Regions from separate parts of the Homo sapiens genome. Here all the other regions are reported to be linked to region 2. Evidence: microRNA targets listed by miRTarBase, many of them from high-throughput screens and not tested one by one. Region 2 holds a microRNA gene; each other region holds the end of a gene's coding sequence.
The links. The annotated mature microRNA hsa-miR-6130 reads UGAGGGAGUGGAUUGUAUG and lies in region 2 at 1,312-1,330, shown strand. An mRNA with a match to its seed (bases 2 to 7 or 8) in the 3' UTR can be bound and repressed. Matches are read on the target gene's strand: a 7mer-m8 pairs with bases 2 to 8, a 7mer-A1 pairs with bases 2 to 7 and ends in A, and an 8mer does both.

Region 1 (5,085 bases), not on the chromosome of region 2:
GAAACGCACCAGTGGCATAACTTACCTTACTCCAAGAATAAAATGATACACTTTGCATTAATACTACAAACAGCTGGGACTCTCCTCTGAGTGCAGTAACTGAGGATGGTGAAGAGGGCGAAAACTAAGAGTGTTTGGGGTTCAGAGAATCCTCTTTTCAGTGTAAATTCTCATTCCTGCTCATTTCCCTTGTCCCTGGAGGAGGCAGCTGCTGTCTGCCGTCCCCCCAGCTCCCTATGAAGGCCTTTAGCTCCTGGTTGCCTGAAACTACCCCTTCCCTCCCCACCTCACTCCGTCAACACCTCTTTCTCCACCTGTCCCAGGAGGCTATGGGGCCCTACGTCTTCCTTCTATTTGCGGTCCTCCTGCTGGGCTTCTTCATCTTCACCTTCTTAAGAGTACCTGAAACTCGAGGCCGGACGTTTGACCAGATCTCAGCTGCCTTCCACCGGACACCCTCTCTTTTAGAGCAGGAGGTGAAACCCAGCACAGAACTTGAGTATTTAGGGCCAGATGAGAACGACTGAGGGGCCAGGCAGGGGTGGGAGAGCCAGCTCTCTCTACCCGGCCCAGAGACCCCTTCCTTTCCTCTGCAGCACTTTAACCCTCTCTTCCCTATTATTTCCGGGTGGAAAAGAATCCCTGCAGCCTGGTAGAATTGGGAAGCTGGGGGAAGGGTGGTCTGAGCACCCCCTCATTCCCCTCGTGTGACTCTCTTGGATTATTTATGTGTTGTGGTTTGGCCGTGGCCATCAGGGTGGGCCACTCTCCCCTCCCTCTTCCTTCCCCCATCCCCTTTCCTCCCCACCTTCCCCAGACTCAGCTCCAGAATACCTTCTTCGCTGCTAGAGAAGGGGGATTGGAGGGAAGACAGGTCTAGACTTTCTCAGTGGGACAAACCAGAGCAGAGAGCAGGACAGGAGACAAGAAATCCAGTTTCCCACCACCTTGGACTCCTCCCACAATCTGGGACTTTCACTGAATTCTTGCCACGCAGACTCTGGGCAAAGGGGTTTTTTTTTTTTTTTTTTTTTTTTTTTTTGAGACAGTCTCGCTCTGTCGCCCAGGCTCGAGTGCAGTGGCGTGATCTTGCTTCACTGCAAGCTGTCTCCCAGGTTCACGCCATTCTCCTGCCTCAGCCTCCGGAGTAGCTGGGACTACAGGCGCATGCCACCACACCTGGCTAATTTATTTTGTATTTTTAGTATATACGCGGTTTCACCATGTTAGCCAGAATGGTCTCGATCTCCTGACCTCGTGATCTGCCTGCCTCAGCCTCCCAAAGTGCTGGGATTACAGGCGTGAGCCACCGCGCCTGGCGAAGGGAGTTCTCTCTTGACCCCTGCAGGGAAAAGGACTCACCTCCCTCACTGCAGGCTCAGCCTTCCAGGGCAAGAGGGAACAGGAAAGTATGTGCCCATGTGTGGCAAGATGGAAGGACGGCAGGCTCCCGCCTCTAGGCTTGGGGCTCTACCCCGATGGTTTCCCAAGGCTGCCAAGAAGGAGCCCTAACTTTCTTCCTCTCCCTTCCTGGAAGGGTGCTGCATCCACAGGCTTTTGACCAACTAAGGCAAAGAGGGGATTTGAAAGGCTGCCTGGAAACACTGGGCTGGGAGGAGCCTTTGGATATTTTTATATACGTTTGAAAAGGGGATTGAGAGAAGAAACCAAAGGTCGGTTGTACTAAATGTATATATATAGATACTTCTATAAAGTCACTGCTGAAGACAAGCATCCTATTGTGGAGGTACTTGAGGATGGGCTGAGACAGGGACCATAACTCTTCACCCCTCTTCCTCCCTCTGTCCTGCCTCAGCTCAAGGCCTCAGAATCTTCTGGATGCCATTGCTCATGCCCCTACTCACATTTCTACTCGTTGCTTTATTAATAGTAAATGCTCAATAAATTGTAGCTGCCAGTGCCGGGCATTGCTCTTGGCATTTGCAGAATACTCACTCTGTGAGGGAGGTGTCAGCCCATGTCACAGATGGGCAGTGAAACCCATGATAGGGGCACTCTTCACCAGGGACACAGCTGGAGACATGGCAGCAAGGATGCCAGGCCCTGCCCACGGCCCCACATCCCCTCCTCCCCACCTTCAACAGTGAGTTACTAGCGATTCTCCAAAACAGAAGAGATGGAGACCAAGACCACAGGAAAGCCTGTTTTTGTTTTTACTGGAGGCTCAGGTGGCACATGACAGATCATAAAATGGCTTCAGAGGTAGGGGGCCGGGGGAAAACAAAAATAAACTTGGGGTGGGGGCAAGAAAAGCAACCAGGAGGAGGTAAGAGCTGGCTGGTTCCTTCTCAGCCTGAGTTACGGGAGGGAGTTGCTGTCTCTGAACAGTAAGGATGGCTCCCTTCCTTCAACCCTTGATAAGGGGAGGGAAGAAAAAAGAAAAAGCAAAAGGCTGCTGCTTTGGTCCTCCTGAGTCTCAAGGAAAAGGTGAAAAGCTGGTGTTTTGATGTCATGAATTATGGGAAAGGGGGAGCAGGGTACTGGGTAGGGTACAGGTCATTTGGAAAAACTGGCAGATACCTGAGAGAGAAAAGGAAATGGACGGATTGTGAACAACAGCGACTTGTCATCGCCACCCAGTACCTCACCTTCCTGGCCACCCACCCAACTGCACCAGCCACTCACCAGATGGCAGCTCTGGGTGTCCTCTGAGTTGAGTTGGAATCACTCCAGGATGGTGGTGGTGGGGTCCCCACTGTTGACAGGGGCTGAGGTCTAAAGAACAGCGGTGGCCAATTGAGACTTGTTCTTTTTGTTTTTGAGACAGAGTCTCACTCCAGGTTGGATGGAGTACAGTGGCGTGATCTTGGCTCACTGCAAACTCCCCCTCCCAGTTCAAGTGATTCTCCTGCCTTAGCCTCCCAAGTAGCTGGGATTACAGGCATGTGCTACCACGCCTGGCTAATTTTTGTATCTTTAGTAGAGACGGGGTTTCTCCATGTTGGTCAGGCTGGTCTTGAACTCCTGACCCCAACTGATCTGCCTGCTTCTGCCTCCCAAAGTGCTGGGATTACAGGCATGAGACATCGCGCAGGGCTGAGACTTGTTCTTCAGGGCCCTGAACTTCAACCTTCTTTCACTTTTTCCCTTCCCATTAAAACCTCAATCACACCCCTCAGTTCACATCTACAAGCTGGTAGGATGGCTCCAGGCAGCAAGTGGGGGATGGGTTGGGGGGGGCATGGCCATCATGGGCAATCATGGGCTTGATTGCCTCTGTGGGGGCTTCCTGGTGGGAGGCGGCACCTGCCAGGGGGGGACCCAGCAGGCTGCATGGAAGAGGGTGGTGGCAGGGCCAGGGCAGGGGAGGGGAGGAGCCAAAGGATAGAGTAGGAAAGAAAAAGGAGCAGGTGGGGGAGGGAGCTGGTCTCAGCCTTTTCTTTCATCCCACATCTGAGGTCCTCACCTCAGGGGCTGCGGGCTGCCGGGGGCCAGGGGCCTGCTGGGGGCCAGGGGCCTGCTGCCGTCTCCGCTGGAAGTAGGGGCGGTTTCGTGGGCGCTGGGGCTCAGGCCGGGAACCATCAGCGGGACCTTGGCTGGGCTTGGTCTCACCATCCCCACCTTCTGTGGTAGGCTGCTGGCGTGGCCTGGGGCGGAAAGGCCTAAGGCAAGGAACAAGGCTCTGAGGGGACCAGGGAATACTCCCTCCCCAGGGCTCACCCAGCTGCCCCACCCCACCTCCAGGAGCCAGGCTTCCAGCCCATGAGCACTGCCTCCCCGCAAGGCACCTGTCTCGCCAGGAGCCCAGGCTCTGCCTAGAGCTTCACCCTTCCATCCTCCTGTCCCTTGCCCCAAGGATCCAACACTGGAAGGGGAAGACCAAGCCCCAGCAGGGGGGTCTTACCTTCGGTACCTGGGCCGGAATCTGGGCGGGGGGACTCGCTCATCTCCCTGCTGTTGGTGCCCCTCCAATGGGGCTGTCTCTTTGGGTTCTACCCTGTCAGTGCCCTGGGAACATGCAAAGGCCCCGGTGAGCTGTGGGGACAGCAGCTGCTCTGGAGCCAGATTATCCACAGCTCTGCCCAACCCTCAGTTCCTCCTTCTTTGGGGACCCATGGTCTCTATCCTAACTCCCACTCCTCTCCTGAACTTGGGGAACTGGCTCCCATATTCCAGCATCCCCTCACCTCTATAGGCTGCTGCTGGTTGGGAGGCCGGGGGCCTCGCACAAACCGCCGTCGGTAGAAGAAGGGTGGGGGGCACCATCGTCGGGGCCGTTGCCCAGAGTCTTCAGCCCGCTCCCCTTTACTGCCAGGTCCTGTCCCCGCCGAGGGGATCTCTGCCACCATGGGTGGTGGGGCAACTGAGGGAGGCCGGGGGATGAATCGGCGGGACTTACGTCGGTTGGGGGCATAACGGCTGCCCTTCACGGGTACTCCCCCAGGCCCAGTTACATTAGTGGCTTCTGCGCCCTGGGAAGGTGGTAAGGGAATAGTGAGAACCTGCTCCAACAGCCAATGTGCATTTCCCAACTTGCTTCCCCTTCTTTCAGGGGAAGACCCCTCTCCAGCTTTCCTTTAGCTCCTCTAACTTCTTTCTACCCTCCCTGGAGAGGCAGTGGAATGTGCTTGCACCCATTTGGGAAGGAGCAACATGTCCTTTTGAAATAATTGCTACTGCACCCTCCTGAGTATACGACTGGGTGGAGAAAGGCCTGGCAGCCAGCATCCACCTTTTTACTCCAGAGGCGGACTCGGGAAGTCTAGGACAGGGCCCCACGTGGAGAACGGATGTCGAAGTGCTTGGTGAACTAGAGAAGAAACCCAGACACTGCCGACCGATGACAGGGACATACTTAGGACATCCCTTAGCCCTAGCATTAAGGAAGAGGACATCAGGGTGAGAGAACACAGTCCCATTCCCGCAGAACGGGTCAGAGCTGGCCCCAGGAGGGTCTTAGCCTGTGATGACCTCCAGGCCACCCTCCCGTAAGCCTAGTCAACTCTATACCCCATAGCAGTCCCCAAACCTTCTCTCCTTCCACGACATCAAATTCCACAGTCTCCCCATCTCCAACGCTGCGCAGAAACTTCCTGGGGTTGTTTCTTTTAATAGCTGTCTGAT
Region 2 (5,085 bases):
TGGTTAATGGGTGCAAAAAATAAGAAATAAAAAAGAATGAATAAGATCTACCATTTGATAGCACAATAAGGTGACTATCATCAATAATAACTTAATTGTATATTTTTAAATAACTTAAATAATGTAATTGGATTATTTGTAATTCAAAGTATAAATGCTTGAGGGAATGGATACCCCATTCTCTCATTCTCTATGATGTGCTTATTTCACATAGCATGCCTATATCAAAACATCTCATATACCCCATAAATATATATACCTAATATGTATCCACACAAAATTAAAGAAATAAATTTTGATATTTTCTTTAAATATATTTAATTAACCAATAAAGATCATATATATTCTGATTACTCAGTGTGATAATTTAATATATACAATATTGAGTAATAATTATCAAAACAAATAGGGGCCTGCCTCTTAAAAAGAAAGATATTTTGAACCCAACTTCATAGGTTTGTTGTTCATAGTGCAGTTGGTATAACACTTTTGAAAATATATTAAACAAAGGGTAAGTATATTAATATATTTGAGAATTCTCACTGTGGGAAATGGAGAATACATGTATGTAATGGCATAAGTTTAGATGGATATTAGAAGTAGCAGAATAAACCCATAATTTTTATTTTAGAGCTTTATTGAGATATAATGCATATACTCTTCACCCACTTAGGATGTGCAATACAATGAAGTGTTCTCAGAGTTGTGCCTCCATCATCACAATCAAGTTTAGAACATTTTCATTAGCCCCAAAAGAAACTCCATAACCAATAATGGTTATTCCTTATTTCTCTAACTCCTCCACCGCCAGTTCTCCTCTCCCCAACCTTCCTGGCCTTATACAATCACTTGTCTACATTTTTTCTCTATATGTTTGCATATCTAAACATTTAAACAATTATTATATCTAACTTTAATTGTATATCCTTTGACCAGGATCACCCAATCCCTCTCCTCCTACTTAGCTCAGCCTCTGGTAACCACTACTCAACTCTCTGCTTCTACGAGTTCCACTTTTTAGATTCCACATATGTGAGATCATGTGGTATTTCTGTCCTGGCTTATTTCTCTTAGCATGAAATCATCCAGGTTCATTGATGTTGTCACAAATGGTGGGATTTTGTTCCTGTTTGTGACCGAATACTCTTCCATTATGTAAATATACCACATTTTCTTTAGTGATTCTTCTGCTAATAGACACTTAGGTTGATTTCATGTCTTGGTTATTGTGAATAATGCTGCAATGAATGTGGAAATGCAGGCATCCCTTCTATATACTGATGTAATTTTCCTTGGATTTATATGCAGTACTGAGGGAGTGGATTGTATGGTAGTTCTATTTTTACATTTTCTGAGGAAACTCCATGCTGTTTTCCCTAATAGCACTAATTTATATTCCCACTAACAGTGACAATTTTGGCACATTATTTACAATATTTATCTTCTGCCTTTTTGATAATAGTAATCCTAGTAGAAATTAGGTAATATTTCATTTTGGTTTTGATTTTCCATATCCTAATGATTATGATGTTGAGCATATTTTAATATACAGGTTGGCCATTTGTATGTTTTCATTTGAAACGTATCTATTCAAGTCTTTTAGCCATTTTTAAAAGGGTTATTTGTTTTCTTGCTATTAAGTTCCTTATATATTTTGAATATTAACTCCTTATCAGATGTATATTTTGCAAATTTTTTTCCATTTTGTAGATTGCCTCTTCACTGCTGTACAGAAGCTTTTTTCACTTTAAATAGTATAATTTGTCTAATTTTTACTTTTGAGGTTTTAAATAGAAAATCCTTGACCAGCCCACACGAATGTCGTGGAGCTTTTCCCTAGTAGCTTTCACAGTTTGGGATCTTACATTTAAATATGTAATCCATTTTCAGTTGATTTTTGAATATGGTGAGACATAGAGAGTCTTGTTTATTCTTCTGCATGTGAATATCCAGTTTTCACAGCACCATTTTTTGAGGAGGCTATCTTTTTCTCATTGGGTGTTCTTGCCAGATTTATTGAAAATCAGTTGGCTATAAATGCACATATTTATTTTTGGGCTCTCTGTTCTGTTCCATTGGTCTATGTGTCTGCTTTTATGCTACTACCATAATGTTTTGGTTACTATATCTTTATAGATAATTTTAAAGTCAGGTACTGTTATGATTTCAGCTTTGGCTATTTGGGGTTCTTTTGTGATTTGATACTAATTTTAGGATTTTTTTTTCAATTTATGTGAAGAATGCCATTGGTGTTTTCATGAGCATTGCATTAAATCTGTAGATCACTTTGGGTACACTTTAACAATGTTCATTCTTCTATTTAATGAAAATGAAAAATCTATATATTTATGTTTTCTTCAATTTATTTAATCAATGATTTATAGTTTTCAGTGTAAGATCCTTCACCTCCTTGGTTAAAGTTTTTTCTAGGGTTTTTTTTCTAAATAGCTGTTGTAAATGAAATTGTCTTCTTGAATTCTTTTTTTCAGATAGTTTACTATTAGTATATAGAAATGTAACTGATTTTTTGTGTGTTGATTTTGTATCTTGCAACTTTACTGGATTTATATATTAATTCTAACTGTTTTCTGGTGTAATCCATAGAGTTTTTTATATGTAACATCATGTCATCTGCAAACAGATAATTTACCTTTTTAATTTCTCTTTCAATCCCTTTTATTTCTTTCTTCTGTCTAATTGCTCTGGCTAGGACTTCTAGTACTATGTTGAATAGAAGTGATGAAAGTGGACATCCTTGTCTTGTGCTAGATTTTAGAGGAAAAGCTTTCAACTTTTCTCTGTTCCGTATGGTGTTATTTCTAAGTTTGTCATATATGGGTTTTATTGTGTTGAGGTACATTTCTTCTGTAACTAATTGTTGAGAGTTTCTTTTATTTTCATGAAGGGATGTTAAATTTTGTAAAATGTTTTTCTGTATGTATAAAATGTTTTTCTGTATGTATAAATCATATTTCTAGCCTATTTTATTTATTTCATTCTGATCTTTATTATTTCCTTTCTTCTAGTAATTCGGGATATAATTTGTTCTTGTTTTTTTTTTTGGTTCTCTGAGATGTGAATTTTGTCCTTCATTCTATTAATGTGGTGTATTATGCTTATTGATTTGCATATGTTGAACTATCCTTGCATCCCTGGGATGAATCTTACTTGATCATGGTGAATGAATGTTTTAATTTGCTGTTGAATTGGGTTTGCTAGTATTTGGTTGAATATGCTTGTATTATTCATGTTCAGCAGGAATATTAGCTTGCAGTCTTTACTGTTGTGGCTGTGTTCCTTGTCTGGTTTTGGTATTAGGGTAATTCTGGAATCATAGAATGAGTTTGAAAGTATTTAATCCTCTTAAATTTTTTGGAATAGTTTGAGAAAAAATAGTATTAATTGTTTTTAAAAATATTTGGTATAATTCAGCAATGAAGATAACACTATTAGTTTTTTTGCGTTTTTTTTGTTTGTTTGCTTGTTTGTTTTTTGTATGGGAGTTTTTTAACTACTTATTAAATTTCCCTACTTGTTACTGGTCTGTTCAGATTTTCTGTTTCTTCCTAATTGAATTTTGGTAGGTTACATGTTTCAAGGAATTTATCCATTTTTTTAGGTAATTCATTTGTTGGTGTATAATTTGTTCATGATAGTCTCATAATCATTTCTATTCCTTTGGTATCAATTGTAATGTATTATTTTCTTCTGTTATTTTATTTATTAGAGTTTTCTCTGTTTTTCTTTAGCTAAAAGTTTATTAATTTTGTTTATCTTTTTAAATACTAACTCTTCATTTTGTTGATATTTTGTATCATATTTCTAGCCCATTTTCTTTCTTTCTTTCTGACTCTTACCATTTCCTTTCTTCTATTAATTTGAGGTATAGTTTGTTCTTGTTTTTTCAGTTCTCTGAGATGCAATGCTTGTTTATTCAAGATCTTTTTTTTCTTTTTGGTTGCTGGAATGTATTGCTATGAATTTCCCTCTTAGGACTGTTTTTGCCATATTCCGTAGGTTTTGATATGTTGTATTTACATTTTGTTTCCAAACATTTTTTGAATTTTCCTTTTAATTTCTTCAGTAATATAGTGGTTATTCAGGATTACATCATTTCATTTCTATATATTTGTGAAGTTTCTGAAATTCCCCTCATTATTGATTTCTAGTTTTTTAAACTCCTTTAAATTTAAGACAGAGTGAGACTCCATCTCAAAAAGGAAAAAAAAAAGACAAAAGAAAAAAGCAAAGAGAAGAAAAACTTCAGCCAAATTAAATTTAAAGGAGTTTAATTGAGCAATGAACCATTCGCAAATCAGGCAGAACAAGTTTGTAGACTAAAAAAGGAAGTGACATACAGAAATCAGAAGTGAGGCACAGAAACAGCTAGATGGTTATATGTTGGCATTTGCCTTGTTTGAACACAGTTTGAACACTCAACAGTCTATGATCAGTTGAAGTATGGCTGCTGGCATTGGCTAAGACTCTGCTATTATTACAGGCACATACTCCTAAGTTAGGTTTTCAATCTTGCCTACCTATTAAGTATCCACAAGGACTCAGAGATAAAAGTATGGAGTCTTTCTCAGGCCATACTTCGTTCACTTTAACAGAAAGCATATGTTAACATGTGTGGAATCATTCCTTTAAGTGTTCTTTGGTTAAAACAGGAAAACCATATAACTGCTCATTCTCCTTTTGGTGCCGTTTTTATGCAGGCATTTTGACAACTGCTATCTTTCACATTTTACCTACACCAAAAATCAGTTTCTTTGTTTCCTTAAGAAATTTACTTACTCTCTGTAAATTTGAAAATTTGATCTTTCTTCTTTCTTTTCTTTCTCTCTTTCTTTTCTCTTTCTTTCTTTTTTTCTCTCTCTCTCCTTCCTTCTTTCCTTCCTCCGCTCTTCGTTCCTTTCTTTTCCTTTCTTTATTTCTCTCTATTTCTCTCTTCCCACCCCTCTTTTTCCCCCTCTCTCTGTCTCTCTCTGTAAATTGAGCTTATTTAAAGTTTTTTTTTTTTTAATGTAATCTGTCTTCATAAACCTGAGTAGGTCTGAAAGTTCAGGGAATTGTTTTTAAAAT
Region 3 (5,085 bases), not on the chromosome of region 2:
GGCCATGGCAGATATAGAGAATGGAGATGACAAAAGGCTGGGATGTTGGGGCAAATGACTGGATAGGAAAAGTATATTCGAGTCTTGTGAAAGGGGGAGGGCCCTAGGGACCAGATAAAATTATGGGAAAGATGACCAGGTCCCACCCTGCCCTTATACTGCATGTATGGTAAGGATTTAAGTAAGTTAAGTAGATAAGATAGAGGTGGTAATCATGGGGTTAAAGGTAGGAAATGAGGTCAGGAGAGAAGCAATATTCAGAGACTTCAGTATCAGATAAATGTGACTCTGAATTCTGGCTTTCTGTCTCACTGTCTGCATAGTTTGGAACAAGTTACTTAACCTCTGAGCTTGTTTCCTCTTCTGCAAGATGGTAGTAATATTCATAGTTACTTCATGAATTTAGTAGGATCATGTATGTAAAGCACTTGGAACAGCATCTAGCACATAAAGAGTGTTCAGTAAACATAATCTGTTATTATTCTTAGATGGAGAAGGTAGGGGAGTCATCAAATAAATGCAAAGTTATTAAGACCGATTATAAATGGGAGTGGAATAATCAGGAAAGATATGCGTGATATGAAGCAGTGCAGGGGCAACAGGGAATAGTGAGAATAAGAATGGAAGAAGGTAAACCCAGATGAAGATATAGTGGTCAGGGCAGGGGTCATGTTGGGGTACAGGGACAGAAGATGAGAGTAGAGGTGAAGAGGAGGGAGAAAGATGGATGTGGACCTCAATGGAGGTAGGGGTCCACTTAGGATGGGGGGCAAGCCTGGATGGTAGCCAGCGATGTGCCAGCGGGCAACTGATTAGCAGCAGGGGGAAGTAAAAGAATCGGATAGGAGGAGGTAGGAGGTGTAACGTCGGCCTAGAAGAGCAACAATAAACTGAGGTGTGGGGGTGAGCTCTGGACGCATGGATGAGACCAGCAGATAGCAAGGTCAAGCCCAAGCTTGCAGAGCCGTGGGGAGGTGGAGGAGGCCAGCACCGCAGAGGGAACGGGTTTGGGGGGAGGGGGAAGGATGGTTGGGGGCGCGGTCCAAAAAAGCTGAAAAGATCCAGTGAATCTCAGAGAGCAAGACCTGGTTCCCTTCGTCAGCCCCATGGACAGTGGCTAAAGGACCGGGGAGGGGACAGGAGAAGGGGAGGGATTGGGTCGGCGCAGAACTCTCCTCTCACCTCCCACCGCCCGGCTCAGCCCTCGCTGGGACCCAGCGGCCGGTCCCGCCGTCCTGGCCCCGCCTCCTCAGAGCTCCCTTCCGGGTCACACGGCGAGTGCACGCACGGCCGGGCACCTACGGGTCCCACCGCGGCCCACGCCGAGCGTGGCGGAACAGCGCGCGAGTGGAGCATGCGTGCTACCGCGGGCGGCTGCACTGGAAGAGGGGCGTGGGGGCGCGCTACCGGAGGAGCCTGGGATCGAGGTCACGTTGCTCCTCTCTCAGCAGCAGGAAGAAGCCGTTTCCATCCAGTCAACTGTGAAGCCCCCTCCTCTTCACTGGGTCGGCCCTCCTAATCCTCCCTCTCCCATCACAGCGATCATGCTGACGAAACATGGTAACCCACATTCCCACCTTAAGGCTGCCCTTTTTGACTTTTCAGTAGGTCAGGTGCCCATGAGTTTCCCAAACCCTTCAGCAATGCTTTGGATTAGTTGTGTCACTTTTCCTGTTAATTAAAATTTGCTCCTCTGCGTTGGCCTTAACACCTAGCGAAGCCACGCACAGGGAGAAGGTCCTCGGCCCCGCAAAACTTTCCTTAAATTAAATCGTATAGAATTAAACAGCCCAAAGCACACCTTAGCATTACCGTTCTCATCAAGCAGCCCGGATCGCTACTCAGAGCAGCAATTTTAGGAGTTTGCCTCGCGTTCATACCCCCATCCCTCCCTAAGTAGAAAAACAGAACCAAAGACCCCACAGTCTGTGCACAAAAATGATACATTTATTGAAAGAGTATTTTTTTTTAATACAAAAGAAAGCTCTGTACATAGGACTGTGACCATGTCCACTATTCCTGGGTCAGCATCCCAGGGGAAGTAGAAACCACTGACATACACACTCACATTCAAGCACACACACTCACTCAGGCGCACACACCCACACACACATACCCCAGAGCCACCGAGGAAGGGAAACACCAAGGGTCGCTGCACATAAAAATATCACCTCAACTCATCCCTGACACACGCATGTCCTCCCAAGGCCACGCTCACACAACACACATTATAAGCACTTTGCCTGATTCACTCACTGGGTCTGTCTTTTGTGGGAAGGAGAGGAAGAATTCATCAAAGGTCTCCTCCCCATGGGTGGGGGAGTGGGGAGTGAGTGAGTGATGGTGGAGTGAAACAAGAGCAGAGAAAAGGGGCTGGGCAGTTACAGACCTGAGTCCCAAGCTCCCCTGCTCTCTGGCCCCTGATTTGCCATGCCCCAGCCTTGAAAGCCACCCATAAGCCCCAGCTATCTCCAGGAGAAAGCCCAGAAAGGTGACTTCCATCTTGGCACCCCAAACTGGGGCAAGACAGCAATGAGGGTTAGAGGTTAGGGGGTTCTCAAACATGTCGGCAAATCATCCCCTTGATAACTAGGCTGTGCATAAAATCTTCCCCCATCCCTTCACCTAATCACAGAAGCCAGCTTGTTCCTACTGAAGGCAGTCTTAGGGGTTAAGAAAATTTCACCCCACTGCTGCCCTGTTTCTGAAAAAGCTCCCCTTCTGGATATAGGTGGTGAAGGTAGGCTCTGACACAGGGTAAAAGACCCTCCCCCCTATGCTGGCCCACCCTCAAGGTCTACCCCAAAGGGGGAGGAGGGGGGTGGGGCATGGCCCCTGTACAAATTACATAAATACTGAGGTTACACTTAGAAAAATAAAGTCATTTTCTTCAAGGCTTTTTGTCTTAATTTAAAAAAGTTACAGTAGCTGCTCACTCCCTGGGAGAACTGCCCATTTCTGGCTCCCCTTTGGCTGCACTCAGCCCAAGAAGCTGCTCCCACTTCTTCTGACCCCCATTCCTGCCTCTCACCCCCTCCCAGACCCCACCCTGCTCACTGCAACTTGGGCCCCAGGCAGCTGCATGCCTGGGACAGCGCAAGGCTGCAATGCCCATGCGTGTGGCACAAATGAAGTCAGTTGCCTCTGCCTGACGCCCTCCCACCCCAACCCCGACATTTGGTCTCCCTCTTCCCTCTCCCTAGCAACAGCCCTAAAGGGCAAAAAGAGGCCCAGAGCTGTGGGTCACCCTCCCCACCCCGTTGGGGAATGGCCTGAGGGCCCCTCCCCCGGCTTTCTCCTGGAAACAACCCAGGACTGGGCAAACCCAGAATCTCCCCCACACACTGGTGGACCCCGAGCTCATGGGGTGGCTCTGTCCCCAGGGGCCCAGCCAGTTCTGGGGAGCCTGAGGGCTCCCCAGGGAAGGGGAGTTTGGGCAGGGAGGGGGACGAGAAAAACGCCATAAAAAAAAGTTAAATATTTTAAAAATATATATTTATAGATTTGTTTTCACTTCGTCTCCTCAAATAAAAAGTTCAAAATCAACTTTAAGTAAAGCAGCTGGGAGGAGAGGGGGGAAGACAAGGGGGAGAAGGGAACGCTGGTGGTTCCCTCCAACCCAGGAGCCCCTGGAGGTCCAAGGGGAGCGGCAAGGCAGGGCAGGCGGCCCCAGGAACCTGCCCAGTGCACAGGCCCAGCTACTCAGGAGCTGAAGGGGGAGAGGACAGCAGTGTGAGGAAGAAGCCCCCATCTCCCCAGCTGGCCCCCTGAGGGGCAGAGCCAGGGCTCTTTTGACCCAGCCTGTGACAGACACAGGGCTGACCTGGGGTCAGCAAGGAGGCTGGCAAGAGGGCCCCAACTGCTTCCTCAGAGGAGGACACGGTGCCCAGCCCCACAGAAGGCCTGTGTGTGGGGAGGTGGGGCACGGTCCCATTGGGTAAGCTAATACTCATGGCAAACATCGAGCCAAGCTGGCGAGGGGGTCCCAGGAAGGAGGACAGCCCCTCCAGCAACAGAAATGGGAGGTGGGGCGGGAAGAAGGGGAGGCTGAGGGAGGACGGGTGGAGGCAGGCAGGCCCATTTCTTTGGCTGGAGTGAGAGGGCTCAGTCCTGTGGCTGCCCGTTCCTCCTCCCCGCCTCCCTCCTGCGGCCCGTCAACGTGTGTGTAAAGAAAACGTGAAAAGGCAACAATAAATAAGTGGTGCCATCCCTTGGGCCATCTGTCCAGGGCGGCGGGCGGATCATTCACTCTTGGTGCTGTGGGCGGTGTCCAGGTTCACCACCTGTAGCTCGGTGAGGTTGCTGCTGCTCCCGGCCTGCTGCCCTATCACAGCCATCTGGAGGGAAGGGGATGTATGAGGAGGGGCAGGGACTGGCCAGCCAGTTCAGGCTCCCCTGGCTTCCCTGCCTGCCAACCACAGGCCTGAGCAGAAAAGCAGATGGGCTTCCAGGCTAGGGATTTTGGCTTTGATGAACTGGTAACAGGATCCCCTAAGGTCAAGACAAAGAAGTGGCTATCTGGGATGGGGTGAAAGATATCCCTACCTACCTGGTGGAGCTGAACTGCTGAAACAGGGATCTGCACTGTCCCAGATGATGCTGTCAGGAACACCTGGGGGACGCCACCTACATTGGAAAACCACAGGAGATACTCAAATTGTTTGTTGAAACTTCCAGATATTGGAGGAGTGGTGTCAAATGCACAAGTGACTGGGGCAGTCTCAGATGTAAGAGCCCAAGGGAAAGGGTGCCAGTGTGTCTGAGGGTGCATGCGGGTGTGAGTGTCCAAGTGGGGTGTCCAAATGTGTGTGTGAGCATCCAAGTCTGTGTTGTATTTGGGTAGAAATATTTGTAGGCATCAGTGCATATGTGTGTGTATGTGTGTGTGTGTGTGTGTATAAAGAAGGAAACGGTCCTCCTTTCCTTAGCCCTGCTCCTCTACTCACCTGGCTCCTGGACCTGGCTGTGTGACACCTGCATGGTGGATGGTGCCTGGGAGAAGGCATTCAGCACGGTGAGGCTGCCATCACCCAGGCCCGAGGTGGGGGCATACATCACCGCATGCGGGCTAGGGTACATCATGTG
Region 4 (5,085 bases), not on the chromosome of region 2:
CTTGGCCTCCCAAAGTGCTGGGATTACAGGCGTGAGCCACCGCACGCGGCCCCCTTCGTGCCTTTTGAGGAAGCAGCAGCCTTGGTCATGGCCCATAAGAACTCAGACTTCAACTGAAAAAAGTGGCTCTTCCCTACACAACAGTCCAGGAAGCTGGATATTGGGAGTGTGGTGAGACGAGAACTGACCCATCCATAAGCTATTCTGGATTCTCTGTCACTCTCAGCCGTGGAGCATCAAGCAGGCTTCCTGAAGCTTCGGGAGGACCTGGCTTCAGCTGCTGTCTCAGCTGCTCGAATGTAACATGGTTCCGTAGTTGAGACTTCAGTCATCCTGAGCAATAAACCAGCTCATCCACTAACTTGGCTCCTAGCTTATTACATGTGTGCACTCCCTGCACTGATGAAAACAGGAAACATGGCGGGCGCAGGGGCTCACGCCTGGCATCCCAGCACTTTCGAGGCTGAAGCAGGAGGATAGCTTGAGGCCGGGAGTTCAAGACTAGCCTAGGCAACGTGGCAAAACCCCATCTAAAAAAAAAAAAAGAAAACAGAGGAAACACAATCATGGAATTTTTAAGGTGGCAACATGTTTTCTTAAAAACAGGTGAGCCTGTCAGCTCTGCTCCTGAGGGAGAGGTAGCTTGGTCAAGAGGGCAGCCCCAGGCCCTGCAGTACAGCTGGTGATTTTCAGCCCAGAGCCCTGGAACCTTGGATGGGGAGTGTGTGTGAGGGCTGTGCGTGGTAGAATGGCAAAAGTGGGGCTAAGTGTGGCCCAGCGTGGCTGGTGCGGACATCTGGGGTTGCTGTCAACCCCGGGGCAAGCAGCGGAAGGTCCCAGGTGAACGGCAGGTCCCCAGAGGTCTGTTTCTCCTCTGGACCTTAATGACCAGGCTCCCAGCCAGGAGCCAGCGGCTGGGGCGAGGGGAGAGTGATTTCAACGCTCTCTGCCCCGAAGCAGGAACCGAAGGGCCAGCCGGTGGGCACCCAGCGTGAGCTCCAGGCACATCTGGACACCTATGCTTTGCCCAGAGTTGCTTTTCTCAGAGGCTGCAGTCACAGGGAAAAGTTGTGACGGTCTTTCCTGCTATTTCCCGTTCGTCCTCTTTCGCCTCCGTTTTTGTTCCCATGTCTTCCTGTACTCCGGGTTCTTTCTTCTGAGGTGGTCTGGGACAATCTGGATGGGTCTCCGGCTTTAACACCCCGGAGCACAGACAGCTTGCAAAATGCTCTCTGGTGGAGGGAGACTTCACTCCATCCTCTTTTCCTCCCTTTTCAACGATTTAAATCCAGGAAAAAATCGCAGCCCCGCCCTTCAGCACTGGGGTGGTTTTGGAGGTGTCGCCTGCCACCTCCTGGCAGACGCCACTGTGACAGCTACGCCACCACACAAAGGCGCGGGAGCGTGGCCAACATCCTGACAATGTTTGTCTCTCGGCCAAGCAGTGTTTTCCTTGTCAAATGTGGCTCGTTTTTTATTCCTGTTTACTGGGGAAATGGTGACAGAACAAATGTCAGACTCAAAACTGAGAATTCAAGGTAGTGATTTTCCAGAATCACTCAGCAAATAACAACCATCTGTTCCCCTGTATTCACTGAAGAAAGGACAATTTGCCTCCCTCCTGCACCCTCCCTCGTCCCTACTAAATTATACCCATGAATATATAAAGTGAACTGAAGGCACCGTGGCATATAAGCCACGGACTCTAAAGCAAAGGGATGTAAATTTCTTTTCCCTCTCACACCCAGGATAAAATGGGCTTAGAATTACTTGTCAGTGTTGGCCGGGCACTGTGGCTCACGCCTGTAATCCCAGCACTTTGGGAGGCCGAGGCGGGTGGATCACGAGGTCAGGAGATCAAGACCATCCTGGCTAACATGGTGAAACCCCGTCTCTACTAAAAATACAAAAAATTAGCCGGGCGCAGTGGCTCACGCCTGTAATCCCAGCACTTTGGGAGGCCAAGGCGGCGGATCACAAGGTCAGGAGATCGAGACCGTCCTGGCTAACACGGTGAAATCCTTTCTTCACTAAAAAAACACACAAAATTAGCCAGGCTTGGTGGCAGGTGCTACTCGGGAGGCTGAGGCAGGAGAATGGCGGGAACCCGGGAGGCAGAGCTTGCAGTGAGCCGAGATCGCGCCACTGCACTCCAGCCTGGGCGACAGAGTGAGATTCCGTCTCAAAAAAAAAAAAAAAAATTACTTTCCAGTGTTTACATTGCTTTTTCTAAACAAGGACAAGGTAATACATGGTTTATTCTTTCACTGTTATTTTGTAACGAGTCAGTGGGAGTATAACCCGGGGAACAAATCCCACGAGATTGGTTTTAGGCTGGAAAGATGTGAGCTTCCTTTTCGTGACTCCTGCTGCTTGAGCACTGTCCTGAGGTGTCTGGGGAGACTGGAGTGGGATGGATTTGCATTCTCCAGGCCGCCTTTCCGCCTGTCCTCTCTGCACCAGCCTTTGGGAGCAGTGTTGGGGGGACACTTGCATTGCCCATTCATGTGGAGCTCTGGGCAGGCCCAGACCACAGTGGGGCTCCAGAGCAGATGTTCAAATATTCAGATGTCAGCCTGGGAGGACACTGTCCCTGCAAACACCCCTCCCCCAGGGGAGAGCAATCCCAACCTGCCCCTTGGCACGTGAATCATGCTTGGTCATTTGGTTTTACTAGGAAGAGGGAGTTTGACTAGGAAGTTGGGGGAGTAGAAGAGAAAGAAGGTTTCTCCTGGGCACACCAGCAACACACTTGACCTCCCTGGAGTGAGCAGTGTCCAAACCATTACGGGAGCCGCTGGGCAGAGGGGTGTGGGGAAACGCTTCCTGTGTTGTCTTCAACTCCAACTCTGTGTGGCTGCAAAAGCAGTGCTTTTTTTTTTTTTTTTGAGACGGAGTCTCGCTCTGTCGCCCAGGCTGGCGTGCAGTGGCGCGATCTCGGCTCACTGCAAGCTCCGCCTCCCGGGTTCACGCCATTCTCCTGCCTCAGCCTCCCGAGTAGCACCTGCCACCACGCCTGGCTAATTTTGTGTATTTTTTTAGTGAAGACAGGATTTCACCGTGTTAGCCAGGACGGTCTCGATCTCCTGACCTTGTGATCCGCCGCCTTGGCCTCCCAAAGTGCTGGGATTACAGGCGTGAGCCACTGCGCCCGGCCTCCCGAGGTGCTGGGATTACAGGCGTGAGCCACTGCGCCCGGCCTCCCGAGGTGCTGGGATTACAGGCGTGAGCCACCGCACCTGGCCAGCAGTGCTTAAGAGTCCCATATTCCACCCACCCACCCCATCCCCACAGTTCCTTATAGATACATTGATGACCATCAGCACTTGCCCTGACACCCTGGCTACATCCTGGTTTGGCCGCTAGTAGGTAAAGATCCAGCTTGCCCTGGGCCCTGGAGGGGCTGAGAGAACAGAAGGGTCCTGCCGCTGTATTGTGGGCGTTCATTCTCAGAACCTTGGCCTCTAAACATTGGGGGATGAGACGTAAGTAGGACTAACACAGGGAACCAGGAAACAGTGACACTTTCCTGACACATGCAGGGTGAGGCTGCCGATTTTGAAATTCAGTTTTCCGCATAGACTTCCGTCTCTGCAAAGTCCTCAAAAAGGTATCTGCAGAGGTGCCAAGAAGGTCTGACATGGCCTGTTGAATTAAGCCGTTTCTATGGATACATAAACAGTGGCTCAGTGAAGCCCTGAACAATCTCAAAGACAGACCATCTGAGCCCAGAGCAGAGCTGCTGGATGCCATGAGCGTAGCCCTCAGCTTCCTGGTGTTCCCTTAGCCACGTCCTCGTTACCAGGCCAAACGTGACAGGTACTGTGACACACCAACGACACAAAACAACTTACTAACGTAATCTGCTGCTCATAGTTTATTTTCCACCAACCAGTGATCAGCTGTGAGTGATGTGGCTGTGACCTATAGCTGGTGCTTGGCGATTACAAACACCCACCAGCTGGTGGAGCAGGCGCCTCCCTGCCAGGATGATGCTTCAGGAACTTTCTGGGCACAAAGTGCTTCTTGGTGGACAATTTTTAAAAACACACAGAGCCACGTGGGTCACCTATTGTCACCAAGAGAAAAAAGAACCTCAAAATCAGTGACGCGACAGGAAGAATTCGGACCTGTTCTTTCTGAGGAAGTTCTTATTTTTCCTGTAACTGTATGACGGCATCACACCTTCCTCCTGAACGTGGGGGCCATAGTCACTGACTCCGCCAGCCTCCCACCAGTGTGCTGGTGTAGGAGGAGCTGCAGACGTCCTCAAGCAGAAGTCACTTCTGCGTCCTCAGTGGTAACTCCTGTCCCTGCTCAAGTCCTCCGCCCTCCCCCGCAGCTGTCTTTTCCCTTCGAAAAGCAGGATGCTTGCCGCCATGGCCGAGTTGAGGCTGTCCACACCAGGCACAACGGGGATCAGCAGCCTCTTGCCACCAGTGCTCTCGGCCAGCTGCAGGGACTCCAGGCTCACGCCGTAGGTCTCCCCGCCAATCACCACAGCTGCCGGCGCCTCTGTCCAGTCCGAGTCGTAACTCTGAACCTCAACATGAGGCAGCCAATCTTGACTGGCTCCGGTTTCTACATCTTCCTCTTCCTCATACTTGTGAAACTTCATCACTCGTTGATCACACACCCAGCCATGGTCACTAGCTTTATTAGACATCTCAGCCTGGGCATAAAGGCCACAGTTGTCAGCCACATAGACCCGAGTGTCAGGGGGCAGGTAATTGGGCACGGTTTCCCATTCCAGATTATTGATAATGGGCATCCGGAAATGTGCGCCCATACCCGCCCGGAGCACTTTGGGCTCCCAGGCATCCACACAGCCTGGAAAATAAAAAGGAAACAATCAAGATGTTACAAATCTTCCCAGACCAGGGGACTGTGGAGTAAGTCTGATCAATTTTGGATCAGGAGATAAACCAGTTCTTCTATGATAGCTTTCTTGAGGGATGGGACCTTCTGCCTCTCTCTGACAGCATCCAGCACAGCGACTATAGGAGTCACTCCTGCTAGTGCTGAAGATATTTTATGCATCCCTTCAACATCTCCCATTCACACGTGCCAGACACTGCGCAGAAG
Region 5 (5,000 bases), not on the chromosome of region 2:
CTTCCTCCTAAGTAAATCTCAGACTACTCCATTCCCCTCGTCTACTCTTTTACCCTAGTCCATGCCAGCATTATCTCTTTCCTGAACTACTCAACCTCTCAACTGGTGTTCCTGCCACCACTGTTGACCTGTTTTCATCAGTTTTTCACAGAGCATACATGTTTAAAAATAAGTCTGGTCACATCACCCCTTGCTTTTACAAACCTGCAGTGGCTTCCCAGTACCATTGACTCAAGATCAAACTCTTCCAAAGCCCCACAGGGTCTGGACCCTCTGCTTACCTCTCTAATGATAGCTCATACTACTTTCTTCAGTGGTAATAATTTTTAGCCATACAGGCCTCATTACTGTCTCTTGAACAAATCAAAAGTTTTCCTGCTTCTTGGGCACTGCTCTAACCTCGACCTAGTACATGTTCCTTCAACTCTTCATAGCTGCATCTATCTCATCCGGTAGTTCTCAATTTAATAAAAACAGCTCATTTTGTACTTTTTGCTACATACTAGTCTAGCAGCTGTCTTTTTTTTTTTTTTTTAAGAGGGTCTTAGTATGCTGCTCAGGCTGCTCTCAAACTCCTGGGCTCAAGCGATCCTCCTGCCTCTGCCTCCCAGTGTGCTGGGATTAGAGGCATGTGTCACCACACTCAGCCTGTACCTGTATTCCTAATCTTCATTGCAACCTTGTGAAATAAGTGGCATTATATTCATCCCCATTTTACAGAAGAGGAACCTAAGCTCTAGTTGAAAGTAACTTGCTGAAAGTCACATAGCAAGTGAGCTCAGATAAACTTAAATGTACCTCAGAAGGCCTTCCTTGAACACTTAGTCTAGATAGGTTCTCCCATTTCTCTTTATTGCATAAACCATTTTATTTCTTGGTAGCATGTAACATAATTTAGTAATTTTGTGTTTTTTTCCCTGCCTCTAGAATTAAGCTCTCTGAGGTCAGGAACTTAATCTGTCTGGTTTACTTCCTCCTGAGTAGCCAGGACTATAGGTGTGTGCCACCACACTTGACTAACTTTTAAAATTTTTTTATAGAGATGAGGTCTCACTATATTGCGTAGGCTGGTTTTGAACTCCTGAGCTCAGGTGATCTTCCTACCTTGGCCTCTCAAAGTGTTAGTATTACAGGCATAAGCCACTGTGCCCAGGCCTGGTTTACTTTTCTTTTCTTTTTTTTTTTTTTTGAGACAGAGTTTCACTCTTGTTGCCCAGGCTGGAGTGCAATGGCACCATCTCAGCTCACCACAACCTCTGCCTCCCGGGTTCAAGCGATTCTCCTGCCTCAGCCTCCTGAGTAGCTGGGATTACAGGCATGTGCCACCATGCCCAGCTAATTTTTGTATTTTTAGTAGAGACAGGGTTTTGCCATGTTGGCCAGGCTGGTCTTGAACTCCTGACCTCAGGTGATCTGTCTGCCTCAGCCTCCCAAAGTGCTGGGATTACAGGTGTGAGCCATCACACCCGGCCACCTGGTTTACTTTTCTAATCTTTAGTGCCTAGCATATTGTCTGGCGTAGAGTGGGGACTTCATAAATGCATATTTTTGAATGAATAAGTTGTCTCAGAGAGTAGCCCTTCTTAGAAGGGGTGAATTTAGAGTTAAGCTTCTTACCCATTTAAGCCATGTTGCTTGATCCTGCTGTACCTTTTCAGTCCCCGCATCAGAGACTTCTCCTGGGCCTCCCCCAATGGGGCCTCCACCTCCTTCAAGTAAGGCTCCCAGGTCCCCACCTGTGGGGAGTGGTCCTGCCTCTGGCGTGGAGCCCACAAGTTTCCCAGTCGAGTCTGAGGCTGTGATGGAGGATGTGCTGAGACCTTTGGAACAGGCATTGGAAGACTGCCGTGGCCACACAAGGGTAAGCTCTGGCACATCAGAGGTTAGAGAGGGCTCCCATCCACAGCCAAATGCAGGAATGGTTCCCAGAGATAGACCCTCTGACCCAGTGGACAGGTTCTTAATCCTTTGAGAGTTACGGACTCCTTCAGAATCTGCTAAGGCCTTCCCAAAGAAATGAACACAGGATTTCAGGAGCATTAATAAGACTTTTGAAGACCAATCAGTAGAAGATGCTGTGGGAACAAGAGTTGAATTCAGCTCCTATTAGTGAACAACCTGATTTTCTGTATCTCCATGCCATTCAGAGCAGAAGCTGCTGATTTTATTCTCAGGAAATTTATATTGTGCCCAGTTAGGGAGAAAGAAACCTCTTCTAGCTATAGTGTTTTCTTAGTTCTTAGAAAAAGAGATCTGAAGAATGTCTTAAAAGAAAGGGAAAGTAGCATGGTCATTTCACCTCTTTGGCGCTTAGTTTTCTTTTTGTGAAGTAACGCTACAGGATGAGCTTCTGAGAGTCTGAGAAGCCCCTGAAATTTTAGAATTCTAGTCATAGTAGGAGGTGGGTTAGGAAGACTGGTGGTGGGAAGATGAGAGAATTCCTGTTTAATGACCTCTACTTTTCAATGAAACATCAGGCAGTGTCAGAAGAAGACAGCAGGGAAAGGAAGGTTTCATCAGTTTCTCAGTGGGGCCTCTAATCTTTGGGTAAAGAACCAGAATTCTAAAGTGTGGGCCAGAGAAAGCAGGTGCTTCCTATGTGGTGCTGTCTTCCCCTCTCCTCCCCTCATTGGGCTGGCAGCACTGAATTGGAGGGGGGCTTCTGTCTCTTAGAAGCAGGTATGTGATGACATCAGCCGACGCCTGGCACTGCTGCAGGAACAGTGGGCTGGAGGAAAGTTGTCAATACCTGTAAAGAAGAGAATGGCTCTACTGGTGCAAGGTATGGGTGGGTTCTTTGGTATAGCCTAAATCCCTTTCCTGCTGTGGTTGGCTATGCTGGAGCAGGTGCTGAGATTTTGATTGACTGGGAGGGGAGGCATGGAAGCTCTTGTACCACAGGCTGCTTGCTCAACCCCCGTCTCTCTTCAGAGCTTTCAAGCCACCGGTGGGACGCAGCAGATGACATCCACCGCTCCCTCATGGTTGACCATGTGACTGAGGTCAGTCAGTGGATGGTAGGAGTTAAAAGATTAATTGCAGAAAAGAGGAGTCTGTTTTCAGAGGAGGCAGCCAATGAAGAGAAATCTGCAGCCACAGCTGAGAAGAACCATACCATACCAGGCTTCCAGCAGGCTTCATAATCCTCGGTTCCCCAGACTCACCGGACACCATCTCCTATGCCTTGGAGACCTTCTGTCACTTGGCTCCCTTCTTACCACCACCAAGACTGTCCCACTGGGCCTGACCCACCTATGAGGGAAGAAGTCCCACCTGGGCCAGAGGGAGTTCATGTGTTACTCATAACATGCATTTCAATAAAAACATCTCTGCGGTGGGCCTTGGGTAGGAGAGATGAACCCTTCCGGTGCCAAGCTAGTCCCCTCTGGTGTCCTCGACTGCCCTGCTCCCTGTGTATCTGCAAACCTCTGTTCTCCCTTCTCCATTCATCAGGAAGGGATCTGCTGGGTAAAGTCAGACTACTGCCTACCACTTTTTCCCAAAGTAGACTGAAAGCACATCCTGTGCTGGGCGGAGCAGCTGTGTTTGGATGGTTTCATTTCAGCATGAGAACAGACTCAAATAGAACGGGGAGACTTTTCCCTCAACAAAAGGAAAGACAGTCCTATTTGCACTGTATCACCCTTGAGATACTACTGTTACAGAGATTAGAACCACATTGAGTGGGGTTTTCTGTGTAAATCGAAGGAGAAAAAGACCAGATTACTGAGATTGGGGATTGTAACTCTGACTTGCCAAACAAACTGCTGCCTCATTTTGGGTTTCAGTGTGAACTCTAAGGTCTCTTGTAACCCTTTGAGAGAGGTACTTGGTGGACTATCATGCTGTGAGAAGGGTACAAGGTTTTTGGTGTTGGAATAGAGGAACTGGTGCTTAGAGGTGGGAAGCAGAAAAGGCACAGGGAGAGACAGGATGGCTATAGGCTGGGACAGCACCTCTTTTCCAAGAGTCCTGCTTTGGAATGGATAGGGGAGGGGCTGCTGGGGGGCCCTGGTTCCAGGAAGGCTGCTTCCTGGGAAGACAGGAACAGCCCTTGGCAGTGGCCAAGCTATTGCTGTTTATGGTTTGGAGGCTCATGTAACCTGCCACTGTAGCGTGCCTCAGGTTCTAATTGCTGCTGGAAGTGGGCCTGGTGGGAGCTGGGAATGATCTGAGGCCTCTGAGCTTAACCAGGCCTGCCAGGGCCTTCAGCTGTGTGGCTGAGATGAGAAAATCAGCATTGAGGAGAACACTGGAGCCAAGGCATTTCTTTGAATGTTTACTAAGCAGTCAGAAGGTGACTTACTCCATTCCCCAGTTCCAGCCCCTGAGCATAGAGGGTTTAGGGTTAGGAGGAGTACCACAGACTGAAGAGGAAGTAGAGTTAAGGGCTTGGCAAGTTGCCCACTCCTATCCCTGGTCTAGCTGCCTCAGAACTAAAGGAGGCCTGGAACTAACAAGTCACTCCCTTCCAGATTAGATGAGGCCAGCTGGCCTTTGGATGCCCCAGGAAGAGGTGGTGGCAGCAGTGGCATGAGGGATCCCTCTGTAACTCCACATGCCAGGTCATCTGCACTGGATTAGATGTCCATTTCAAATTGTGCGTCATCTGGAGAGAGAAAAGGCAGGAAGACAGGTTGCTGGTCTGAGGATCTGCAGGCTCAGCATCAGTGCAGAAACCCCTCTTGGAACTGAACCCCCGCACTGTGTCACAGTGGCATTTGAACTCAAAGGCTGGGACAATTCTTAATTCCTGCTTTCCTTACCGGGTATCTCTTCCTCTGTCTCCTGCTCCTTCAGCTCCTCCAGCTTGGAGAGAGGGGCTGTTGGAGGAGTTGTGACCCCGGGAATCTGAGGGAGGCAGCAGGGGGGTGTCCGGGCAATGGGTGAGTTCTTGCACTCCAGCAGGAACTTTCGGTCGTAGATGATCCTGGTGCCTGTCAAGGGGTTGGGACTGAGGTAAGAGTCAGGAGCTTGGGTACCGAGGTGACTGGGGTCCC
Region 6 (5,084 bases), not on the chromosome of region 2:
TGCTTGAGCCCAGGAAGTCAAGGCTACAGTGAGCTATGATCTAGCCACTGCACTCTGCACAAGTAACAGACTGAGACTCTGTCTCAATCAAACAAACAAACAAAAAAGTCCATGATATTCAGGAAAGAAAGCAGAGATAAAGGAAAGGTTTTTATAGGGAAATGGCAAGTAATAGCTGTAGAAAAAACTATCAGAAAATTACCATCTTTGCAACCACCAATGTAATAATTAATTGTTATTAACTTAATAATTGATTCAGGATGGCCAGGTGTAGTGGCTCACGCCTGTAATTCCAGCACTTTGGGAGGCCGAGGCGAGTGGATTGCGAGGTCAGGAGTTTGAGACCAGCCTGGCCAACACAGTGAAATCCCATCTCTACTAAAAGTACAAAAAAAATTAGCCGGCTGTGGTGGCATGCATCTGTAGTCTCAGCTACTCAGGAGGCTGAGGCGGGAGAATCTCTTGAACCCAGGAGGCAGAGATTGCAGTGAGCCGAGACCACGCCATTGCACTCCAGCCTGGGTGACAGAGTGAGGCTCCGTCTCACAAAAAAAAAAAAAAATCGATTCAGGCAAGGAATTGTCGCTGGATGGCAAAAGCATTAGCTGAAAGGTTGTTGGGGACAGGATATTCACAAAGTCCCCAAATATTACCCCAAATTACTTGTGAATCAGGAAGGGAAACTGCGTCTTTACAGGGGAGAGATCTGGCAGCAGCCACCTGGATCACGTGATCAAACTGAGCGTCCTCAACAGTGGGGCAGCCTGACCCTGCCAGCTGCCTGATGAGGGGCTGGGGGTGAGTGTGGTCAGAGGAGGAAAGGATACAGTAGCAGCTGCCCTGGATGCTTCCAAAAATATTCTTGCCTGATTGCCTATGGAGAATGGCTAGTTGGGAGAGGCAAAGATGGCCTCCTGCTCCCTCAGAAGCCTGGCTGAGTGGCATTGCCAGTCCTCCAGCCGGGCCGTGGAGAACACGTGTGTGCTGAGGAGCCGGCCAGTGCTGGACGTGAGTGCCAAGAGGGAAGGGACTGTGTCTTCCAGTCTCAGGGTTGCCAGCACCTGGGACACAAGGGGGCACTCAGTGATGAGCAGGGTGTCGTCTGCAGCAAAGTCAGGCGCTGTCTGGAAGACATGGGCTGGAGCTCAGGAGAGAGGGCCGGGATGAGACATAGACATGGCAGTGAGGCACAGAAATAGAAAGCAAGCTGGATGAGCTCCCCGAGGAGTGATACAGAGGGAAGAGAAGGGGCTCAGGGACAGAGCCCTGGGGCACCAACATTGAGGGGTGGGGTGTGTGTGAAGAACCAGCAAGAGAGCCTGAGTAGGAGCAAGTGGTGGAAACAGCGGGAGAGCAAAGGCAGAAGAGGGTGAGGAATGAGGACTGCCGGCCATTCAGTGGGGCCCTGAAGGTGTATGCAGGCCGCTCCAGCTGGGCCCTGGAGGAGGACAGGGCAGTTGCTGTGTGTCTCTCATCTCTCCTGAAGGCTTTTCAGGGCTGGGAGGCTCAAGGCTGGCCACCTCTGCTGCATCTACTCCTGGGAGTACCAGGCCCGGGCAGATCTATTGGAGCTGGTGAGGCTCACATGGGACACCAGCTGATCCATTGCCAGGGAACCTCCCCACCCCAAGGCAAATGCTGCTGTCCTCTGAGGCCGCTCTTCCTCCCGTGGGCCCTTGGGAAACGACACCAAAAGCACCTCATCCCAGCTGGGCCCTTCACTCATGCTGCTATCTCCTGATGTCATTGTAGTCACACCATGGCCGCAGGACTCAGATACTGTCCCGAGGCCCCTCCCTGAGGGGCAGGTGGTGGGTCTCAGGGCCCTTCACCGGGCAGGGGGCAGTGGATGACTCGGTGCTACCTCTCAGGGCGGACAATTGGCTCAGAGGGGCGCAGCACCTGCAGTAAACATTCTGACCCCTGTTAAAGGATCTCAGCATTGGGGGGGCTGCAGCCTGTGGCTGCTCCATCTTCATGCAGAATCCCCAGTGTCCTCTAACGATCCCCCCACTTCCTGTCTCCCATCCCTGCAGTGTTTCCTCTCTCTGGTGCTTTCCCTAACCCAAGCCTCAGAAAACGCTTTCCCTGTGTGATCTTGACGCCTCCAGCCCTCTCCTCCACTACCTGCGAGGTGGCCCTGATCTGACACATGCATGGCCCCTGTAGTGGACAGCTGCCATTTGCGGCCACCATTGAGGATATCCATTCATCCAGCCCTCCCCCAGAGCCTTCTGTCCCTTGCATAGCCCATGTGTGTCCAGGGAAGTGGCCCCATGCCTAGCTCCAGGGAGCCAGCCCTGACGGAGAATTACCCCCTACCCCAGCCAAAATGATTGGACGCACAATCCAGTTCTGACCAACGAGAAGAGTGTTTATTTGCTGGGGGCATCTGAGACAGCAGAGGTGGTACACAGAGAAGATGCTGCTCTGGCAGTGAGGGAGGGATTCCGTGGAAGCTGCAGGCAGCCATCTTTTCATCCTCGGAGGTGGTGGCCTGGGATGTAGCAGATACCAACGCAGAGGGAGGCAGAAGACACTGGGTGAAATTGCTCACCTGCTGCCAATGCCAATACCACTGGACTTTTCACTTTCATAAGCCAAGAAATTTCCGTTAACTGATTAAACAAATTGCCTTTATTGTTAAACCAATGATTGGATATCAGAAACAGCCTAGCTAATATAGCTCCTTTTGGATAAAAGTAGAAGCCTCACATTCACCTTTAATGTTATTTCACTTTTTCCAAAATCAATTTCCTGGCACCACACAAACAAGAACACTGGTAAATGTATCACCTGAACTGCAGGCCACACATGCTCACGAGTGTGTCCCTGCCGTAGGTGGCTTTGAAGCCATATACATGGCTCTCCAGCTCTCGTGGGGGGCCAGGGGCTTCTGTGTGCTCTTCAAAGCCTTCACCCATTGGGCCTCTGTCCATCTTTCCAGCCTGGGGACCCAATATTTGCCCCACAAGGCCCAGGCAGGAGGGCCTCCAGCACGCGCAGCCCTGACCACACTGTGAGCAGCTCACTTGGCAAGGGTGAAGGGCCGGAGTGGCGTCCTCCTGATGTGGCTTCCTTCCAGCCTCTACCACCCCTGGGGGCCTCCTCCAAGGAGCAGGTGGTTAGATGTCCTCTTGTGCCCACACACACGGCAGGGTGGAGGAGGATGAACCGGAACCCAGTCCATGCTTCTGCCCCCACCCTGGCACCCCAAGGTTTCTTCTCAGGCAACAAGGAGCACACAAAGTGAGCCCCTGTACACAGGTGGCTGGGATATGTTCATCTTCCACAGGGAGGCCAGTGCTGGGGATGAGGACAAAGGCCTACGCCCAGTCCCAGCTCTGACACTGCCTTGCTGAGTCACCCATCAGCCCTAACGCTTCCTGGACGAGACAAGCAGATAGGGTGCCCCAGAGAGGAGCTGTGTCACTAAGGGCCAGGACACCCCATCTCTGGGTCACACTTGGCCACGGCTTCATTTTTGGCTTCAGTTTGTTTACTGAACAGAAGGGAGAGGGGCCCTGTGAGACAGAGGACACTGACTCAGGTCGGTGAGTGGCCCTCACTGTATAGAGTCCATGGCTGGGGACCAAGTGGCACTGAGACTCGCCCAAAGTCACATCACAGAGCTGGGGTGCCTTGCTGACTCCCTGGCCCCAATCTGCTTTTCCATTTGTCGAACGCACACTGGCACACTGGCTGCAGCAGCTGCGGGGGTCGGGGGGTTCCAGGGCTGGCTGTCACTTGGCCTCCTGCAGAGGTAAGCTGAGGGCTATGTTGGACCCGCCAGAAGTCAGGTGACAGCTGCTTTCCCTTTCAGGATCGGGAGGGAGTCACCTGAGGGTATATTCTCAGTGGGCTAAACATGACATGCGAGAGCCCAGCTCTCCAAGCGGCCCCTTCCTCCTTCTCACACCAAGGCACTTTCAGAAGCCGCTGGATTCCGACTGGGGCTGTGCCACTTCATCGCCGGTGCCTCTGCTGTGCCGGCTCTCCTCTTCTGAGGGTGTGGAAGCAAACCCAGGTCAAGCTGTGAGGAGTGCCTAGCACCTGGCCAGAGCCAGGTACATGCCAGCTATGATGATGATGAGCCCAACTGCAACAGGAGAACACACTTAGTGCGACATGCAGCGGTAGCCTGGCGTTGGGCACCTCCCCATGCTCCGAGAATTCTATTTGGAGAAGCCCTTCTCCATTGTCTCAGTCACTTCAGGGTGCAGGAAGCGGCTGGCCAACCGTTCGATGTCGTCCAGCGTCAGGCGACTCAGGGACCTCTCGTAATCCTGGGGAGAGAAGGGCAGGAAGATTCAGGGGCTGCCAGTGGTGGGGGGGCATACACTGCAACAGAGGTAGGGGCTGGGAGCAACTGGGCCTGAAGAGGATGCCCAGGGTTACCCTTCTCACCCTCTGTAGCTGTTCCAGGACCCTGCTGGCATCTGCCGCACTGAAGTGGCGGGCCAAGACTTTGGAGATCAGCTGCCAGACCTGCGGGGGTGGGGAGTCGGCCAGCCTCTGGGCCTCGCCTTCTTCTAGTAGCACCTTCTCCAGGGGTTTGACCACTAGGTTGAGCTTGGAGTTGGGCCCGATGCTATAATCCGAGAGTCGTTTCCCATCTGCCAAAGACAGATCGATGGGTTCCTCCTCCTCCACCGCCGTGGGGGTGGCCCGGGGCGCGAGGCCGCCTCGGGCGGCGGGAGCGGAGCGCTGCGGCATCCGGCTGTGAGGCATGCGGCCGCCTCCCTTGGGGTCATGTGGCGCTTGGCGCCCGCACCCCGACCCGACACACGGCTGCTGGCCTCGGCCCGCGCACCCCGGTCCCGCTTCCTGCGGGGCTCCCCGGGCGTCTCCTCTCCCTGGGTACCTGCCAGGGCCTTGCCCTTGAACAGCAGCCGCTGCTGGCGCACTGGGACGTTCAGCTTCTCGGAGACCAGCTGCTTCAGCGTGGACACCAGCTCGTCCTCTGGCACCTGGCCGCGCGGAGGGTGGGAGGCAAGGGTTGAGCCCGCGGCCCCCAGACGGCGAAGCCCACGCGTCCGCCCCCGAGGGCAGCTCTCCCGGCTCCCGGCCCTCGGCCCGGCCGC

Region 1: the mRNA of SLC2A4 is a reported target of hsa-miR-6130. Seed matches in the 3' UTR shown: 7mer-m8 at 773-779, 8mer at 1,363-1,370 and 7mer-m8 at 1,797-1,803.
Region 3: the mRNA of SRF is a reported target of hsa-miR-6130. Seed matches in the 3' UTR shown: 8mer at 4,049-4,056.
Region 4: miRTarBase lists MRM3 as a target of hsa-miR-6130. The part of its 3' UTR that is shown has no 7-base or 8-base seed match.
Region 5: the mRNA of EIF4EBP3 is a reported target of hsa-miR-6130. Seed matches in the 3' UTR shown: 7mer-A1 at 4,535-4,541.
Region 6: the mRNA of UBL4A is a reported target of hsa-miR-6130. Seed matches in the 3' UTR shown: 7mer-m8 at 3,830-3,836, 7mer-m8 at 2,523-2,529 and 8mer at 2,438-2,445.

Annotation. Positions count from the first base shown.
Region 1 is chr17:7,286,103-7,291,187 of GRCh38, forward strand. It overlaps SLC2A4 (solute carrier family 2 member 4), which reads left to right. Exons shown (of 11, transcript NM_001042.3): 11 at 324-2,155. The coding sequence ends at 527. YBX2 (Y-box binding protein 2) reads right to left here. Exons shown (of 9, transcript NM_015982.4): 4 at 4,991-5,080; 5 at 4,149-4,433; 6 at 3,866-3,969; 7 at 3,428-3,623; 8 at 2,647-2,736; 9 at 2,161-2,541. The coding sequence ends at 2,686. Among named protein-coding and RNA genes, the nearest start is that of YBX2, 6.0 kb to the right of the region's middle.
Region 2 is chr21:23,078,043-23,083,127 of GRCh38, forward strand. MIR6130 (microRNA 6130) reads left to right here and starts at 1,242; the gene lies at 1,242-1,350.
Region 3 is chr6:43,178,347-43,183,431 of GRCh38, reverse strand. SRF (serum response factor) reads right to left here. Exons shown (of 7, transcript NM_003131.4): 5 at 4,947-5,085; 6 at 4,550-4,626; 7 at 1,926-4,337. The coding sequence ends at 4,242. CUL9 (cullin 9) reads right to left here and starts at 1,236. Exons shown (of 41, transcript NM_015089.4): 1 at 1,183-1,236. RefSeq lists silencers at 1,036-1,085, 1,106-1,245 and enhancers at 1,496-1,565, 4,568-5,067, 5,068-5,085.
Region 4 is chr17:791,279-796,363 of GRCh38, reverse strand. It overlaps MRM3 (mitochondrial rRNA methyltransferase 3), which reads right to left. Exons shown (of 4, transcript NM_018146.4): 4 at 3,855-4,830. The coding sequence ends at 4,295. Among named protein-coding and RNA genes, the nearest start is that of MRM3, 11 kb to the right of the region's middle.
Region 5 is chr5:140,548,843-140,553,842 of GRCh38, reverse strand. It overlaps EIF4EBP3 (eukaryotic translation initiation factor 4E binding protein 3), which reads right to left. Exons shown (of 3, transcript NM_003732.3): 2 at 4,767-4,937; 3 at 4,267-4,609. The coding sequence ends at 4,581. ANKHD1-EIF4EBP3 (ANKHD1-EIF4EBP3 readthrough) reads right to left here. Exons shown (of 36, transcript NM_020690.6): 35 at 4,767-4,937; 36 at 4,267-4,609. The coding sequence ends at 4,606. It overlaps SRA1 (steroid receptor RNA activator 1), which reads left to right. Exons shown (of 5, transcript NM_001035235.4): 3 at 1,659-1,861; 4 at 2,674-2,782; 5 at 2,932-3,775. The coding sequence ends at 3,143. Among named protein-coding and RNA genes, the nearest start is that of EIF4EBP3, 3.7 kb to the right of the region's middle.
Region 6 is chrX:154,481,364-154,486,447 of GRCh38, forward strand. UBL4A (ubiquitin like 4A) reads right to left here. Exons shown (of 4, transcript NM_014235.5): 2 at 4,865-4,970; 3 at 4,408-4,616; 4 at 2,354-4,286. The coding sequence ends at 4,176. Among named protein-coding and RNA genes, the nearest start is that of UBL4A, 2.7 kb to the right of the region's middle. RefSeq lists enhancers at 628-687, 3,941-4,699, 4,700-5,084 and a silencer at 4,636-4,785.